4 separate regions of the Homo sapiens genome follow, and all the other regions are linked to region 3. The links come from fine-mapping of genetic effects on gene expression. A gene starts in region 3. Each other region holds a variant in brackets. All regions are shown on one strand. Distances are between the middles of the regions. Region 1 has its middle 15 kb from the start of SLX4. Region 2 overlaps LINC00921 (long intergenic non-protein coding RNA 921). Region 3 holds the start of DNASE1 (deoxyribonuclease 1). Region 4 overlaps NLRC3 (NLR family CARD domain containing 3).

The links. PIP is the estimated chance that this variant, and not a neighbour inherited with it, causes the effect. A credible set is the group of variants that fine-mapping cannot tell apart.
Region 1: its variant is the best candidate, but not a certain one, in a credible set for the expression of DNASE1 in memory regulatory T cells (Schmiedel 2018, PIP 0.89).
Region 2: its variant is the best candidate, but not a certain one, in a credible set for the expression of DNASE1 in T cells (TOPMed, PIP 0.81).
Region 4: its variant is the best candidate, but not a certain one, in a credible set for the expression of DNASE1 in whole blood (TOPMed, PIP 0.56).

What each region holds. Positions count from the first base shown.
Region 1 is chr16:3,624,525-3,628,685 of GRCh38, forward strand. It overlaps a transcript of DNASE1 not described here. Among named protein-coding and RNA genes, the nearest start is that of SLX4, 15 kb to the left of the region's middle. RefSeq lists an enhancer at 1,470-1,569. The variant T/C (reference allele first, on the strand shown) is at 1,785.
Region 2 is chr16:3,267,544-3,271,704 of GRCh38, forward strand. It overlaps LINC00921 (long intergenic non-protein coding RNA 921), which reads left to right. Exons shown (of 2, transcript NR_033904.1): 2 at 1-24. Among named protein-coding and RNA genes, the nearest start is that of LINC00921, 5.9 kb to the left of the region's middle. The variant G/GAGA (reference allele first, on the strand shown) is at 1,776.
Region 3 is chr16:3,652,766-3,656,926 of GRCh38, forward strand. DNASE1 (deoxyribonuclease 1) reads left to right here and starts at 1,926. Exons shown (of 9, transcript NM_005223.4): 1 at 1,926-2,279; 2 at 2,608-2,755; 3 at 3,084-3,172; 4 at 3,337-3,420; 5 at 3,873-3,988. The coding sequence starts at 2,609. It overlaps LOC124903631 (a long non-coding RNA gene), which reads right to left. Exons shown (of 2, transcript XR_007064954.1): 2 at 1-4,161. RefSeq lists enhancers at 2,103-2,630, 2,631-3,158.
Region 4 is chr16:3,559,288-3,563,448 of GRCh38, forward strand. NLRC3 (NLR family CARD domain containing 3) reads right to left here. Exons shown (of 20, transcript NM_178844.4): 5 at 3,722-4,161; 6 at 2,415-2,501. LOC101929732 (a long non-coding RNA gene) reads left to right here. Exons shown (of 4, transcript XR_007064953.1): 4 at 1-302. Among named protein-coding and RNA genes, the nearest start is that of NLRC3, 16 kb to the right of the region's middle. RefSeq lists an enhancer at 2,575-3,075. The variant C/T (reference allele first, on the strand shown) is at 2,322.

The DNA of each region.
Region 1 (4,161 bases), 28 kb before region 3:
AAGACCCTGAATCTAGCAGCCACTGTGTACTATACCTGGAGCAGTCCAACTGGGTGGACTGTGCTCAGCATCCGAACATCTAGACAGGCAAAGCCATTCCCAGTGGTGGCCCAAACCAGCAAACATTGTGTAACAATTTTTTTGCAATCAATTTTTCTTTTCTTGTTTTTTGAGATGGAGTCTTACTTTGTCGTCACCCAGGCTGGAGTGCAGTAGTGGGAACTTGGGTCACTGCATCCTCTGCCTCCCAGGCTCAAACAGTCCTCCCACCTCAGCCTGTATTCTATTTCTGTAGCTGAGAATATAGGTTTCTTCCAGCACACCTGGCTAATTTTTTATTTTATTTTTTATTTTTAGTAGAGATAGGGTTTTGCCATGTTGCCCAGGCTCGTCTCGAACTGGGCTCAAGTGATTTGCTTGCCCCAGCCTCTCACAGTCTGAGATTACAGGTGTGAGCCATCATGCCCAGCCTGCAGTTTTTCTTATTAAAACTTAATGGGGGCCGGGGGCAGTGGCTCACTCCTGTAATCCCAGCACTTTGGGAGGCCTAGGCGGGCGGATCACCTGAGGTTGGGAGTTCAAGACCAGCCTGGCCAACATGGTGAAACCCCGTCTCTACTAAAATACAAAAGTTAGCCAGGTGTGGTGGTGCATGCCTGTAATCCCAGCTACTTGGGAGGCTGAGGCAGGAGAATTGCTTGAGCCCTGGAGGCAGGGGTTACAGTGAGCCGAGATCGTACCACTGCATTCCAGCCTGGGCAACAGAGTGAGACTCTGTCTCCAAAACAAAAAACAATAAAACAAACTAATGGGGCTAGGCATGATGTTATATTCTTGTAGTCTCTGAAACTTGGGAGACTGAGAAGGGAGAATTGCCTGAGCCCATGGTTCAAGGCCAGCCTGGGCTGTGTAGTGAGACCCATCGCTGCAAAAAAAAAATTGTTTAAATAAAATTAGCCAGCATGGTAGCACATGCCTCTACTCCCAGCTATTCAGTAGGCTGAAATGGGATCGCTTGAGCCCAGGAGGTCGAGGCTGCAGTGAATCATAATCGCCTTTCTGCACTCCAGCCTGGGCAACAGAGCAAGACCCTGTGTCAAAAAATAAATAAATAAATGAAACGGCCAATATAGAATAAAGGTGCTAAAAAAGGCATAGGAGGGAATCTTCATGACTTTGGGGTAGGCAAAAAATTCTTAAACAGGGACACAAACCACTAACCATAAAGAAGTGACAAATTATGTGACATTAAAATTAAGAACCTTTATAAGGCACCATTAAGAGGGTGTAAAGGGCTGTGCATGGTGGCTCATGCCTGTAATCCCAACACTTCAGGAGGCCGAGGCAGAAGGATCGCTTTAGCCCAGGAGTTTGAGATCAGACTGAGCAAAATAGTGGGACCCTGTCTGAACAAACAATTTAAAAATTAGCCGGGTGTCAGGGCATGCGCCTGTAGTCCCAGCTACTCTGGAAGCTGAGGTGGGAAGATCACTTGAGCCTGAGAAGCCAAGGCTATAGTGAGCCGTGATTCTGCCACTGTACTCCAGCCTGGGCAGCAGAGCAAGACTCTATCTCAAAAAGGGTGTAAAGATACCACAGACTAGAAGATGTGTGTGATGTGCACGGGACTAGTATCATATGCACAATGACAAAGGATTAATATCTAAAGAAATCCTAAAAAAAAAAAAATAGAAAAACAGGCAAGAGACTTGAGTGGCCAACAGGTATATGAAGAAGTGTTCAACTTATTTAGTCAAAGAAAATGCAAATTAAACCACAGTGAG[T/C]GATCACTAAACTCAGCAGCATGAACAAAATGAAGATAACTGCTAGACAATAGCTAGTGTGGTAAGGACTTCCTGTTTGAGCCATGGTTATTTAGAAGTATGTTGCTTAATATCAAGTGTTTGGAGAGTTCCCTCATTTTTCTGTTACTGGTTTCTAGTTTAATTCCATTATGGTCAGAGATCATACTTTATATGATTTCAATTTTTAAAAATTTGTTTTGTGACTTTTATGGCTTAGAATATAGTCCATCTTGAGTGCTCCAAGCTTGAACACTTGAAAACACTATATATTTCTCTGTTGTTAGGTGGAGTGTCCTCTAGATGTCAGTTAGATCCAGTTGGTTGATGATGGTGTTCAGGTTGCTGATTTTCTGTCTACTGGTTCTATGTATTGAGAAGTGTTGAAGTCTCCAGCTCTGATAGTGGATTTGTCTGTTCTTCATTTGTCAGTTTTTGTTTCATTTATTTTGAATCTCTTTTGTTAGATGCGTATGCACTTAGGATTATGCTGTCTTGATGAATTGACCTTTTTTATCATTATGTAATAGCCCTCTTTTATTTATTTTATTTTATGTTTTTTAGAGACAGGGTCTTGCTATGTCACCCAGGCTGGAGCACGGTGATGTGATCAAAACTCACTGCAGCTTTGAACTCCTGAGCTCCAGTGATTCTCCTGCCTCCGTCTTCTGAGGAGCTGGGACCACAGGCACATGCCACCATGCTTATTTAAATTTTTTTTTTTTTTTTGGTAGAGACAGGGTCTCCCTATGTTGCCCATGCTGGTCTGAAACTCCTAGCCTCAAGTGATCCTCCCATGTTGGCCAAGTGCTGAGACTACAGGCGTGAGCCACTGCACCCAGCCCTCTTTATCACTGGTAATTTTCTTTGCTATGAAGTCTACTTTGCTTGTTTGACATTAATATAGCCAGTCCAGCTGTCTTTTGATTAGTGTTTGCATGACATATCCTTTTTTTTTTTTTTTTAGACAGGGTGGTCTTGCTCTGTCACCCTGGCTGGAGTGCAGTGGCATGATCACGGCTCACTGCAGCATTGAACTCTAGCTCAAGCCATCCTCCCACCTAAGCCTCCCGAGTATGGGACTATGGGTGTGTGCCACCATGGCTGGGTAATTTTATTTTTTATTTTTTTATAGAGACAAGGCCTCACTATGTTGCTCAGGCCCGTCTGGAACTCCTGGGCTCAAGTGATCCTTCCACCTCAGTCTCCCAAAGTGTTACATGAGCCAGTGCACCTGGCTTGTCTGTGTTTTCTTTTGTTTCCTATGACTTTGATATGATATCCATGTTCTTTTGCATGTGGATATCCAGTTTTCTCAGCAACATTTATTAAAAAGACTATCTTTTCCCCGTTGAATGGTCTTGGCATCCTTGTCAAAATCATTTGACCATATATGCCAGGATTTATTTCTGGGCTGTCAACTCTATTCCAATAGTCTGTATGTCTGTCTTCCTGCCAGTACCACATTGTTGTGATTACTGCAGTTTGTTAGTAAGTTTTGAAATCAGGAAGTGTGAATCCTGAATCTGTTTTTCTTTTTCAACATGGTGTTGGCTATCTGGGGTCCGTGGAGATTCCATATGAATTTCAGCATGTATTTTCTATTTCTGCAAAAAAAAAAAAAAAAAAAAAAAAGTCATTGGGATTTTGCTTCAGTTTACATATGAATCAGTAGCTCACTTTTGGGAGTATTGACATCTTAACAATATTAAGATATCTTGTCTTAACAATATCGTCCAACCCATGAAAGTGTGATGTTTTTCCTTACTTATATCTTCATTAATTTCTTTCAGCGATGTTTTGTAGTTTTCATTGTATGAATCTTTTACCTCCTTGGTTAAAAGTCCTAGGTATTTTATTCTTTTTAATGCTATTGTAAGTGGAATTGTTTTTATAATTTCCTTTTCAAATTGTTCAGTGTTAGTATATAGAAATGCAAATGATTTTTGTGTGCTGACTTTGTATCCTGCTGCTTTGCTGATTCTGTTATTGTAATTATTTTTTGTGTGTAATGTTTAGGCCTAGTTTTTTACATATCATATTAAATCTGTGAATTAATTTTACTTTTTTCTTTCCAATTTGGATATATATTTTTTTCTTAATTGCTATGGCTAGAACTTCCAGTACTAGGTTAAATAGTAGTGGTAAAGGTGAATGTTCTCATCTTAGAAGAAAATTTTTTAGTCATTCACTATTGAGTATGATGTTCATTCAATGTGCATTTCTGTTTTTTTCTTTCTTTTTTTTTTGAGATGGAATCTCGCTGTGTCGCCCAGGCTGGAGTGCAGTGGCGCAATCTCGGCTCATTGCAAACCTCCGCCTCCCGGGTTCACGCCATTCTTCTGCCTCAGGCTCCCGA
Region 2 (4,161 bases), 390 kb before region 3:
ATTAAATGAGCTAATACACACAAAGCACCAAGAACAATGCTGGATACAAGGTAATAGGTGTTTCTTCCTAGACTTCACTATCCTCATGTGAGGTGGGTATGTTTATTTATTTATTTGGGGACAGGGTCTCGCTCTATCACCCAGACTGGAGTGCAGTGTTGCAATCATGGCTTAGCTCCCTACAGCTTTTTAAATTTAATTATTTATTATTATTATTTTTTTGAGATGGAGTCTCACTCTGTCACCCAGGCTGGAGTGCAGTGGCACGATCTCTGCTTACTGCAAGCTGGGCCTCCCGGATTCACACCATTCTCCTGCCTCAGCCTCCTGAGTAGCTGGGACTACAGGCGCCTGCCACCACGCCCAGCATATTTTTGTATTTTTAGTAGAGGCGGGGTTTCACCGTGTTAGTCAGGATGGTCTCGATCTCCTGACCTTGTGATCTGCCCACCTCGGCCTCCCAAAGTGCTGGGATTACAGGCGTGAGCCACCGTGCCTGGCCTCAGCTCCCTACAGCTTTGACCTCCCCAGCTCAAGTAATGTCCCACTTCAGCCTCCCGAGTAGCTGACACTACAGGAATGCACCATCATGTATACCTGTGGTCCTAGCTACTTGGGAAGCTGAGGTGGGAAGATTGCCCCTGAAATAAGACTCTAGATACAGGTCCCTTTCTCTGAAATTTTTGAAACAAAACGCCTAATTCAAAAAAAGTTATTTTTGGTAGAGACGGGGTCTCACTATGTTTCCCAGGCTGATCTCAAACTTGGGTTCAAGCCATCCTCCCTCATTGGCCTCCCAAAGTGTTGGGATTATAGGCAGGAGCCACTGTGCCTGTCCAAGGTGGGTGTTGATATATTCAATTTAACACAGAAAACAGGAAGTTTGTACACACTGACTTGCCCAAGGCTACACAACTACAAAGAGTCAGGTAGCCAACATTCAGTCTCAAGGTCTGTGTCTGCAGAGCTCAAGGCCTTTCCTTTGGCTTTGCTGTCTCTTGGCATCTGGTAGCTTAGCAGTCATCAAGCCAACCCCGTCATGTTACAGAGGAGGACACAGGCTTCCAGGGGAACTGACTGACTTGAGTTCTACACATCAGTGCAGAGCTGGGACTAGAATTCTGTCCACCTAACTGTATTTGGAAGAAAGTTAAGTGCTATTGACTACACCTAATATCTGAAAGATAAAGGGAGAGGCAGAAGCAAGAATGAATAATGTGGCTGGGCGCGGTGGCTCACGCCTTTAATCCCAGCACTTTGAGAGGCCGAGGCAGGTGGATCACGAGATCAGGAGTTCAAGACCAGCCTGACCAACATGGTGAAACTCCATTTCTACTAAAAATACAAAAATTAGCCGGGCATGGTAGCGTGCGCCTGTAACCCCAGCTACTAAGTAGGCTGAGGCGGGAGGATCGATTGAAGCCGGGAGGTGGAGGTTGCAGTGAGCCGAGATCGCACCATTGCACTCCAGCCTGGGCAACAGAGCGAGACTCTGTCAAAAAGAAAAAAAAAAGAATGAATAATTTTTAAAGCAGGCTGTGAAGAACTAAAAACATGAGGACACGGAAATTCAGAAACACCCATTTCAATATGATTCCTTTCGGATAACTTGAAGCCCAAACAGGATGGAAAATCACAGGCCAAAGTCACCTGAAGGAAGGCTGTCACCCATGACGGACAACCGGGATGTTGCTCTCCATTCATCCCAACGGCAGCAAAGTCTGTCCTGGAACATGGAATGGTTTCTTTATACAGACAACTAAGACTGGCTCCAA[G/GAGA]AGAAGAGTTGCTACCACTAACCCCTACATGCTGCCTTGAAAGAGTTGGTGGTAGGTGTTGGAAAATTAATCTGAGTAATTAGGAAACAAAATTTGAAACAAAGAATCCCATGCACAATAGTAGCAAAACCCATAACCAGACATGATAAGAAATTTGCAAGACCTATAAGAAGAAAAGTATATAGGATTACAGAATTTTAAAAGTCCCAGATCATTGAAGAAATACACCACAGTCGTGGATGGAAGAGTTAATATTACAAATATATCATGCATTCCTAAATTAATCAACAAATTATAAGCAAACCCAATTGAAATTGTAACGAGATTTTTTTTTTACATTTTTAAAAAAATGTGATCTTGCTATGTTGCCTGAGCTGGTCTCAAACTTCTAAGCTCATGCGATCTTCCTGCCTTGGCCTCTCAAAATGCTGGCATTACAAGTGTGAGCCACCATGCCCAGCCATAACAAGACTTTCTTTTTTTTTTCAGACTGGGTCTCACTGTTGCCCAGGCTGGAGTGCAGTGGCGTGATCTCAGGTCACTGCAACCTCTGCCTCCCAGGTTCAAGTGATTCTCCTGCCTCAGCCTCCCGAGTAGCTGGGATTACAGGTGCGCCCCACCATGCCCAGCTAATTTTTGTATTTTTAGTAGAGATGAGGTTTCGCCATGTTGGCCAGGCTGTTCTGCCCACCTCACCCTCCCAAAGTGCTGGGATTACAGGCATCAGCCACCGCACCAGGCTGCAAGATGTTTAAGAATGGGCTTTGACAAGTTGATTTTTAAAATTCATAGCCAAAAAAATTGTGAAAAAAATACAGTGGTGTGAGATGTATTGTAACAGATATAACAACAAGCTGTGAAAATACAGTAAATTAGAACAGTAATATGTTTTTACAAGAATGGATATAAGGTAAATGGAAACAAGATTCCGTAAGACGTGTGTATATGCAAAAGATGGTATTTAAAACCCAAGGGGAAAAGGTGGCCCAACTTATAAATAGTTTTGGGACTGTTGACAGTTGAGCTGGAAAACATAGACTTCTGCCTGACATATATAAAAAATAAACTCCATATATATATATATATATATATATATATATATATATATTTTTTTTTTTTTTTGAGACGGAATGTCGCTCTTGTTTCCCAGGCTGGAGTGCAATGGTGTGATCTGGGCTCATTGCAACCTCTGCCTCCCAGGTTCAAGTGATTCTCCTGCCTCAGCCTCCCAAGTAGCTGGGATTACAGGCATGTGCCACCACACCCGGCTAATTTTTTGTATTTTTAGTGGAGATGGGTTTTCACCATGTTGCCCAGACTGGTCTCGAACTCCTGACCTCGAGTGATCCACCCGCCTCGGCCTCCCAAAATGCTGGGATTACAACCATGAGCCACCGCACCTGGCCCAGATGATTTAAAGAAACACGAAGTGTAATATCTGTAAATTTGTTTAAATTTCGCAGTGAGGAAGATCTTTCTTTTTTTTTATTTTTTATTTTTTTATTGATCATTCTTGGGTGTTTCTCGCAGAGGGGGACTTGGCAGGGCCATAGGACAACAGTGGAGGGAAGGTCAGCAGACAAACAAGTGAACAAAGGTCTCTGGTTTTCCTAGGCAGAGGACCCTGCGGCCTTCTGCAGTGTTTGTGTCCTTGGGTACTTGAGATTAGGGAGTGGTGATGACTCTTAACGAGCATGCTGCCTTCAAGCATCTGTTTAACAAAGCACATCTTGCACTGCCCTTAATCCATTTAACCCTGAGTGGACACAGCACATGTTTCAGAGAGCACAGGGTTGGGGGTAAGGTCACAGATCAACAGTATCCCAAGGCAGAAGAATTTTTCTTAGTACAGAACAAAATGAAAAGTCTCCCATGTCTACTTTTTTCTACACAGACACAGCAACCATCTGATTTCTCAATCTTTTCCCCACCTTTCCCCCTTTTCTATTCCACAAAACCGCCATTGTCATCATGGCCCCTTCTCAATGAGCTGTTGGGTACCCCTCCCAGACGGGGTGGTGGCTGGGCAAAGGGGCTCCTCACTTCCCAGAAGGGGCGGCCGGGCAAAGGCGGCCCCCCACCACCCGGACGGGGCGGTTGGGCGGGCGGAGGCACCCCCCACCTCCCTCCCGGACGGGGCGGCTGGCCGGGCAGGGGCTGACCCCCCACCTCTCTCCCGGACGGGGCGGCTGGCCGGGCAGGGGCTGACCCCCCACCTCCCTCCCGGACGGGGCGGCTGGCCGGGCGGGGGCTGACAGATCTTTCTAACCAAGATAAAAAAACTGAAAAAGTTAAAAAATTCAGGTAAATAGAAAAATTAGAAAACTTCAGTATGACAAAAACAGCCATGAATATGGTTAAAAGGCTGGATGCAGTGGCTCATGCC
Region 3 (4,161 bases):
TGGCCAGACCGAGCACTTTCCTGACTTTCGACCTTGGCCCCTGCTGACTCTTGCCGTTGAGGCCTCCTGCAGACCCCATTTGTATTCATTTCCTGCAGTTCTCATACCTGAATCCCGCCTGGACTTCTGCCAAGCCTTCCAGGCCCTCCTCCCCCAGGGGGACCACAGATGCTACGTGCAGGGCTGTCCTTGGAGGGCCAGCACAGCCCCTTCCAAGTGGGCAAGACCCAGGGGTGGCTCAAAAGATAGCTGTGCCCTAGCCCTGGAACCTCTGAATGTTGATTTTTGTAGCAAAAAAGGACTTGCAGATGTGAGTAAAGGCTGTTGAGATAAGGACATCCTCCCTGCTCTCTGGGAGGACCCCAAATGCAGGTGCACAGATCTTAAGAAGAAGAGGCAGAGACTGGGGTGATGCAGCCACAACTAAGGAAAGCCAAGGATTGCTGGCAGCCTGCAGAAACTGGAGGGCAAGGAGCATCCCCCAACCGCCCGGAGCCTCCAGGAGGCGCAAGGTCCTACTGACTCCCTGACTTCAGACGTCCAGTCTCCGGAATTTTGAGAGGATCCATTTCTGTTATTTTAAGCAACCAAACTTGTGGTAGTTTCACCAGTCTCAGGAAATGAATACGAATGGAAAGTCAAAGATTCCAAGAAATGAGTGGCGGGGTGCGGTGGCTCACACTTGTAATCCCAGCATTTGCGGGAAGATTGCTTGGGCTCAGGACTTGGAGACCTTGTGTCTGTGAGAAACTTAAAAAATAGGCTGGGTGCGATGGCTCACGCCTGTAATCCCAGCACTTTGGGAGGCCGAGGCAGGCGGATCACAAGGTCACGAGTTTGAGACCAGTGTGACCAACATGGTGAAACCCTGTCTCTACTAAAAATACAAAAATTAGCCGGGTGTGGTGGTGCGTGCCTGTAATCCCAGCTACTCGGGAGGCTGAGGCAGAAGAATTGCTTGAACCCAGGAAGCAGAGGTTGCAGTGAGCCGAGATAGTATTACTGCACTCCAGGCTGGGCAGCAGAGCAAGATTCCGCCTCAAAAAAAAAAAAAAAAAAAAAAAAAAAAAAAAAAACTGAGCATGGTAGCATGCACCTGTGGTCCTGGCTACGCCGGAGGATTGCCTGAAGCCAGGAGTTCAAGACCAGTCTGGACAAAAGAGCAAGACCCCATCTCTACCAAAAAAATTTAAAAATTAGCCAGGCATGGTGCCGTACCCATAGTCTTAGCTACTCAGGAGGCTGAGGAGGGAGGATTATCTGAGCCCTGGCGGTTGAGGCTATAATGAGCCATGATTGTGCCACTGCACTCCAGCCTTGGCAACACAGTGTGAGACCCTGTCTCAAAAACAATAAAAACCCAAAACAAAAGAACCAAGAAATTACTGGACCTGAGGCCTGGCCTTTAGCTGCTGCCCTGCCCTTGTGACCTGGTCACTCGGGATCCCCTGGGCCTAAACACACAGCCTATTGTCTACCTCAAGAAGGCTCCCCACTGCTTGGCTGGCAATTGGGGTGGGCTTTGCAGGCCCCACCTGTCCTGGCCCCACGGCGCTGGTGCTGCAGGCCCCCACCACTGCTTGTTCCGAGCTCCCCAGCCTCCTGCAGAGTTGCCTGCACCTGATGGCGATGAATCAGGAAGGCAGGCGTGTCCTGGGCCACAGAGCAGTCATGGCTGTCAGCCACCAGGGGGCTCCATTTGCAACTTTGGATGTGGCTTTGGCCTCTTTGTCCAAAGTGACCTTGGGGCCCCCAGACAAGAGACAGGGAGACTGGAGCCCAGCCCCACCCTCCCGCACATACCTGGCCCATCCCTGCCCTATCCTGGAAGATGGGGGCCACCACACGTGCAAGGGACACGGGATAGGAACCTTTGGCCTTGTTATCAGACATTTTAAAACTAAGTGCAAACGTGATTATCAGGTGCAGTTTTTACAGCAGCAAGAAACCTGTGCTTACAGAAAGAAACACGTGCTAGCAACCCACCTATGCGGAAAGCCACACAGAGCCATTGTTTTCTGCACTCTCAGGTGACGGCTCACATTTGCCCCAGGGAAGGTCACAGCTGCCTGAACTTTTAAAACTCCCAGACACGCACTGCCTGTGCAGGATCCGGAGCCCAGCAGCACTGCCAGGGCCTTGAAGTGCTTCTTCAGAGACCTTTCTTCATAGACTACTTTTTTTTCTTTAAGCAGCAAAAGGAGAAAATTGTCATCAAAGGATATTCCAGATTCTTGACAGCATTCTCGTCATCTCTGAGGACATCACCATCATCTCAGGTGAGCACCAGGTGGAGTGCCTCTGGGTGACTGGCCGGTTTGGAGCAGGGAGGGAGGCTTAGAGTCTCATCCTCCAGCAGCGAGTGAGGCGGAGGCTCCAGCGTCCCTCCCGGGCGGGTTTTCTGGTGGATGGAGGAGTGACTCGGGGTCCTCTACGTGGTGCCAGCTGTTTGGCTTTCTGGACGTTGTAGGAAAGGGTTTCCCCCGCCTGCGTCCCCCTGACCTTGAGCTCCACCAGCCCCTGCCAGCTGGGCTCCAGAAGGCTGGAGTGCTGTGGCAGGGATGACGTCTCACTTCTGTTATGTCTCTGTGCCCTGTGCTCTCCCAGGATGAGGGGCATGAAGCTGCTGGGGGCGCTGCTGGCACTGGCGGCCCTACTGCAGGGGGCCGTGTCCCTGAAGATCGCAGCCTTCAACATCCAGACATTTGGGGAGACCAAGATGTCCAATGCCACCCTCGTCAGCTACATTGTGCAGGTGAGGCCAGGGCAGCCTCCCCCCAAAAGCAGAGGAGCTCTGGAGTCTAGGGCTGGTGGGCAGGGCCAGCCCTATGGAGCCACAGGGTGTCGGGTGTGGGGTACTGAGCACCACTGCTCCCAGCACGGTGGAACAGGCTCTTGGCTGTGGACCAAGGTCCTCATCCCTGCTGTGCTGTCCCTGGCTGGCAGCAGGAGCCCAGGCAGAAACATGAGGCTGCGGTTAAACCGAGCAATGCCACGAGCATCAGCTGTGGCTCCCTTTGTGGCGCTGTAGGGTCCCTGGGTGGCACCAGCCCTGCTCAGCACCACTGTGGCCCTGCCCCCAGATCCTGAGCCGCTATGACATCGCCCTGGTCCAGGAGGTCAGAGACAGCCACCTGACTGCCGTGGGGAAGCTGCTGGACAACCTCAATCAGTGGGTGACAGTGGCAGGGTCATAGGAAGGTGACATCTCGTCCACGGCACAGCCTCACTTCACTTGGGCCCCAAGGGTGGGGACCTGGGCACAGCCTCGCTATCGGCAGCCAGAGGGGTCCCCTATGGCCCCCGCCACTGGGACCTTTTGTTTCTTCAATCCAGGGATGCACCAGACACCTATCACTACGTGGTCAGTGAGCCACTGGGACGGAACAGCTATAAGGAGCGCTACCTGTTCGTGTACAGGTGGGTGGTCTAGAAAGCCAGGAAGCCCCTCCCTCACCTGGGAGGGCCCCAACAGAGCAGGGAAGTAGTTTGTCCTATTAGTTTGTCCTATGGCAAGAACCTGAGGCTTCAGAGCAGGGTCCAGGGTGGAGTGAAAACACCCCAAGGTCCCGGACCAATGGGTTGAGCAGGTGCCTGGCTCCCCCGCCCTCCTGTCGCCTGGGTCCCGGACCAATGGGTTGAGCAGGTGCCTGGCTCCCCCGCCCTCCTGTCGCCTGGGTCCCGGACCAATGGGTTGAGCAGGTGCCTGGCTCCCCCGCCCTCCTGTCGCCTGGGTCCCGGACCAATGGGTTGAGCAGGTGCCTGGCTCCCCCGCCCTCCTGTCGCCTGGGACGCGACGCCTGCCTCCTGGGAAGCAGGAGTGGGGCAGCTTCCAGCCTGGGGTCACCTCCTCCTGCCCGGCCTTCCCGCAGGCCTGACCAGGTGTCTGCGGTGGACAGCTACTACTACGATGATGGCTGCGAGCCCTGCGGGAACGACACCTTCAACCGAGAGCCAGCCATTGTCAGGTTCTTCTCCCGGTTCACAGGTGGGTGCTGCCTGGGCCAGGGTGGGGCTCGGCTTGGCGCTTATGGCCTCCACCCCCTCCTAGGGAACCTGGAATGCCTGTGTCACACACTGCCCTCCCAGTCCCTGGGGCTTGGGTTTTCCATTCAAGTCATTTGGAAAATATCCACCCCCCGGGGGGACTGTCATGATACA
Region 4 (4,161 bases), 93 kb before region 3:
ATCAACTACAGAGAGAGGTAAAGAAGAGCATGTGGCCAGAGAAGAGATTTTTGGCTTCATTCAGAATAATTTACTTTTATTTTTATTTTTAGTAAAGATGGCATCTTGCCATATGTTTGCCAGGTTGGTCTTGAACTCCTGGCCTTAAAGAATCTCCCCACCTTCCAGATTGCTAGGATTATAGGAAGGAGCCACTGTGCCTGGCCCCCGAATAATTTCTGAGCACTACCTAGTCTGCTTTAAGCAAAACTAAAAGTTGGCTATTTTGTCATGTGCTAAAAATGCAGGAGGCGCTCACAGAGGAAAAAATATTAATAATGAGAATTGTCATTCTTTTACTTTTCTTTTTTTTTTTCTTTTTTTTTTTTTGAGACGGGGTCTTGCTCTGTCACCTCGGCTGGAGTGCAGTGGCGCAATCTTGGCTCACTGCAACTTCTGCCTCCCAGACTCAAGCAGTTCTCCTGCTTCAGCCTCCTGAGTAGCAGGGATTACACACACCCACCACCACCACGACTGGCTAATTTTTGTATTTTTTAGTAGAGACAGGGTTTTGCCAGTTTGACCAGGCTGGTCTCGAACTCCTGACCTCAAGTGATTCACGGGCCTCAGTCTCCCAAAGTGCTGGGATTAAAGGCATGAGCCACCGCCCCTGGCCTAGATATCCTTTTAAGCCCATTTTTACCCTCTTAAGGCACAGAAATGACTTCTTCAAACTCACACAGAGCCTACACCTCTAAACATACTCCCCAGTGCCTTATTTTTGTTACTGAATTAGTGTAAATTGCCATTAACTCAGATAAAGATTACTTCAGAACCCAGAGGCTTGTATGAGAATGAAGAATTACCCCTGGCCACAGTGGCTCACACCTGTAATCCCAGCACTTTGGGAGGCTGAGGCGGATGGATCACCTGAGGTCAGGAGTTTGAGACCAGCCTGGCCAATAAAGTAATATAGTGAAACCCTGTATCGACTAAAAATACAAAAATTAGCTGGGTGTGGTGGCATGCGCCTGTAGTCCCAGCTACTCAGGAGGCTGAGGCAGGAGAATTGCTTGAACCCGGGAGGCGGAGTCTGCAGTGAGCCAAGATCGTGCCACTGCACTCCAGCCTGCCCAACACAGGGAGACTCCGTCTCAAAACAAAAAAAAAAACAAAATTAGCCCTTGGGTTCTCTTCTCCAAACTCACCTCCCTAGGTCTGCAACAGCCACCCTCAGAGGATCAGTCACATCGATTCAACCACAAACCCCGAGTGTGTGTAGTTTCTCAGATCCAGGAATGTTATTCCAGGAGACGTTTCATAAGCACACATTCACCATGTGAACTTTTGTCTAATTACAAGATGAAGGTTTTTTTGTTTGTTTTGTTCTTTTTTGAGACGGAGTCTCACTCTGTCACCCAGACTGGAGTGCAGTGGCGCTGGAGTGCAGTGGTGCGATCTCGGCTCACTGCAACCTCTGCCTCCTGGGTTCACGCCATTCTCCTGCCTCAGCCTCCTGAGTAGCTGGGACTACAGGCGCCCACCACCACGCCCGGCTAATTTTTTGTATTTTTAGTAGAGACAGGGTTTCACCGTGTTAGTCAGGATGGTCTCGATTTCCTGACCTCGTGATCCACCTGCTTCGGCCTCCCAAAGTGCTGGGATTACAGGGGTGAGCCACCACACCCGGCCACAAGATGCAATTTTAATTAAAAATTGTTTAAATTGATTTAAAATTAAATTTGAAATTAAATTTTAATTAAATTAAATTTGAAATTTAAAATTTTAATTAAAAATGCAATTGGCTGGGTGCAGTAGCTCACGCCAGTAATCCCAGCACTTTGGGAGGCCAAGGCTGGCGGATCACAAGGTCAGGAGTTCGAGGCCAGCCTGGTTAACATGGTGAAACCCTGTCTCTACTAAAAATACAAAAATTAGCCAGGTGTGGTGGGCCCCTCTAATCCCAGCTACTCAGGAGGCTGGGGTTAGAGAACTGCTTGAGCCTGGGAGGCAGAGATTACAATGAGCCGAGATCATGCCACTACACTCCAGCTGGGGTGACAAAGCAAGACTGTCTGGGGGGGATAATTATAATCCTGTGCCTAGAATGCTGTTGGACAGCAAACTTGGAGAGGTGCTTAGAGAACATTGTGCCTGGCATTATGTCAGCACACGTAGTGCTGTGGAAACACCTGCCTGTGCACAGCGGTGTCTAGTCCCGCCAGGTCACCTCCCTCTTCCTACTGATGAGGCACCTGAGCCTCTAGCACTTTCTGGAATTGGGCAGAAACAAGCAGGCTGCATCTGGAGCCACATGCTCCAAAGACACTTCTCCGTGGCAG[C/T]GCCGCTGGCCAGCTGAGCAGAGGATGATGGGAAGAGGGTTCCATACCCCACAAGACCATAGGCACCCTGGAGGTCCCCTGGGTCTGTGTTACCTGATCTTCTGAATGCGACAGTCCTTCCCACTCAGCACGCTGCCCAGCAGCTCCATCACGGGGTCCTGGAACTGGTTGGTGTCCAGCCTGGCCAAGGGGAGCAGTGACAGTGAGTGTCCCACCCGCCCACGGGCAGGGTGGGGGCCCTGGCCCGGGGCCTCTGCCTCTCTCCATCCCATGCAGCGCTATCACCGCAGCTCTGAGATCTGCGCTCAGCCCCAGTGCTCAGACCTTTCCCGTGAGAGTGAACAGGAGGCTGGGTGCCCACGAGACCTGCGGTTCCTGTGCAGAACGGCATCTTCCACGGGCTGTCGTCCTCACCACCCCACATACCGCCTGCCTCTGCGGGACACCTGGATGACCCTCAGCCTGTGTCCTTTCCTCCCTACTCACTAAGGTCCAGAGTGGCGGGCAGGGGACAGGCTGAAAGCATTCAGCGGGTGTGCAGCTTCTATCAGACTGGATGGTTCTGAGGGGGTTATGAATTGAATTGTGTCCCCACAAAAGATATGAAGTCCTAACCCCCTGTGCCCCAAGTATGTGGCTTTATTGAGAAATGGGGTCACTGTGGATGTACTTTGTTAAGGTGGGGCCATGCTGAAGTGGGGTGAGCCTGTAATCCAGTGTGACAGTGTCTTTTTAAGACAAGAAAGCACTGGCCAGGTGCAGTGGCTCAGGCCTGTAATCCCAGCAATTTGGGAGGCTGGGGTGGGCGGGTCACCTGAGGTCAGGAGTTTGAGAGCAGCCTGGCCAACATGGTGAAACCCCGTCTCTACTAAAAACACAAAAATTAGCCAGGCATGATGGCGGGCACCTGTAATCCCAGCTACTAGGGAGGCTGAGGCAGGAGAATCGCTTGAACCCAGGAGGCAGCGTTTGCAGTGAGCTGAGATCGCGCCACTGTATTCCAGCCTGGGCGACAGAGCAAGACTCCATCTCAAAAAAAAAGAGAGGACAGCACCATGTGGAGACAGACACAGGGAGAAGATGACCAGGCGACGGGAGAGACTGAAGTAACGCAGCCTTAAGCCAAGGGTTCCCATCAAACACTGGAAGCTAGAGAGGAAGGAAAGAACCTCTCCTATATGTTTCAGAGAGCGCATGGCCCTCCTGGCACCTTGATTTGAGACTTCTGGCCTCCAGAACTGCGAGAAAACACACTTTAGTTGTTTTAAGCCACCAAGTTCATGGTCCTCTGTTACGGCAGCCCTAGGAGACTGACAGAGAAGCTTGGTGGTGGGGAGGGGACGGCTTCTGCTCTCTCCTCTGCCCCTTCCCCAGCCCCTGCCCCCTGCCCTGGTATCCACCTGAGCTTCCGGCAGTAGAGCAGCTGGGGCAGCAGGCTCTGAAGGACGCCCTGGCTGAGGCTCAGGGACAGGTTGGCCTCCTGGGCACAGGCGTCGGACACCTGCAGGAGGTAGGCCAGGGCAGCGCGGTGCGCGGGACCAGTCAGCCTGGCCAGGGCCCCGCTCTCCATGGCCTCCTCCACGCTGCGGGCCAGCTCGGTGTGCTGCAGCTCATGCAGGCAGTGCAACACGTTGATGGCCCGTGCACAGACTGCGGCATCGGGGCGCAGGCAGCCCTGCAGGAGCTCAGCCACCTGGGTCCGGTAGGCCTGGTGCTCGCCTTGGGCCAGCAGGGAGCCGGCCAGGAGGGCATTGACCCTCGGAGACAAGAGGCCGGAGAGGAAGCGCAGGAACACGTCCAGCCTCCCGTCCTCTGCCTGCATGGCCCGCTGGGCTGCGCT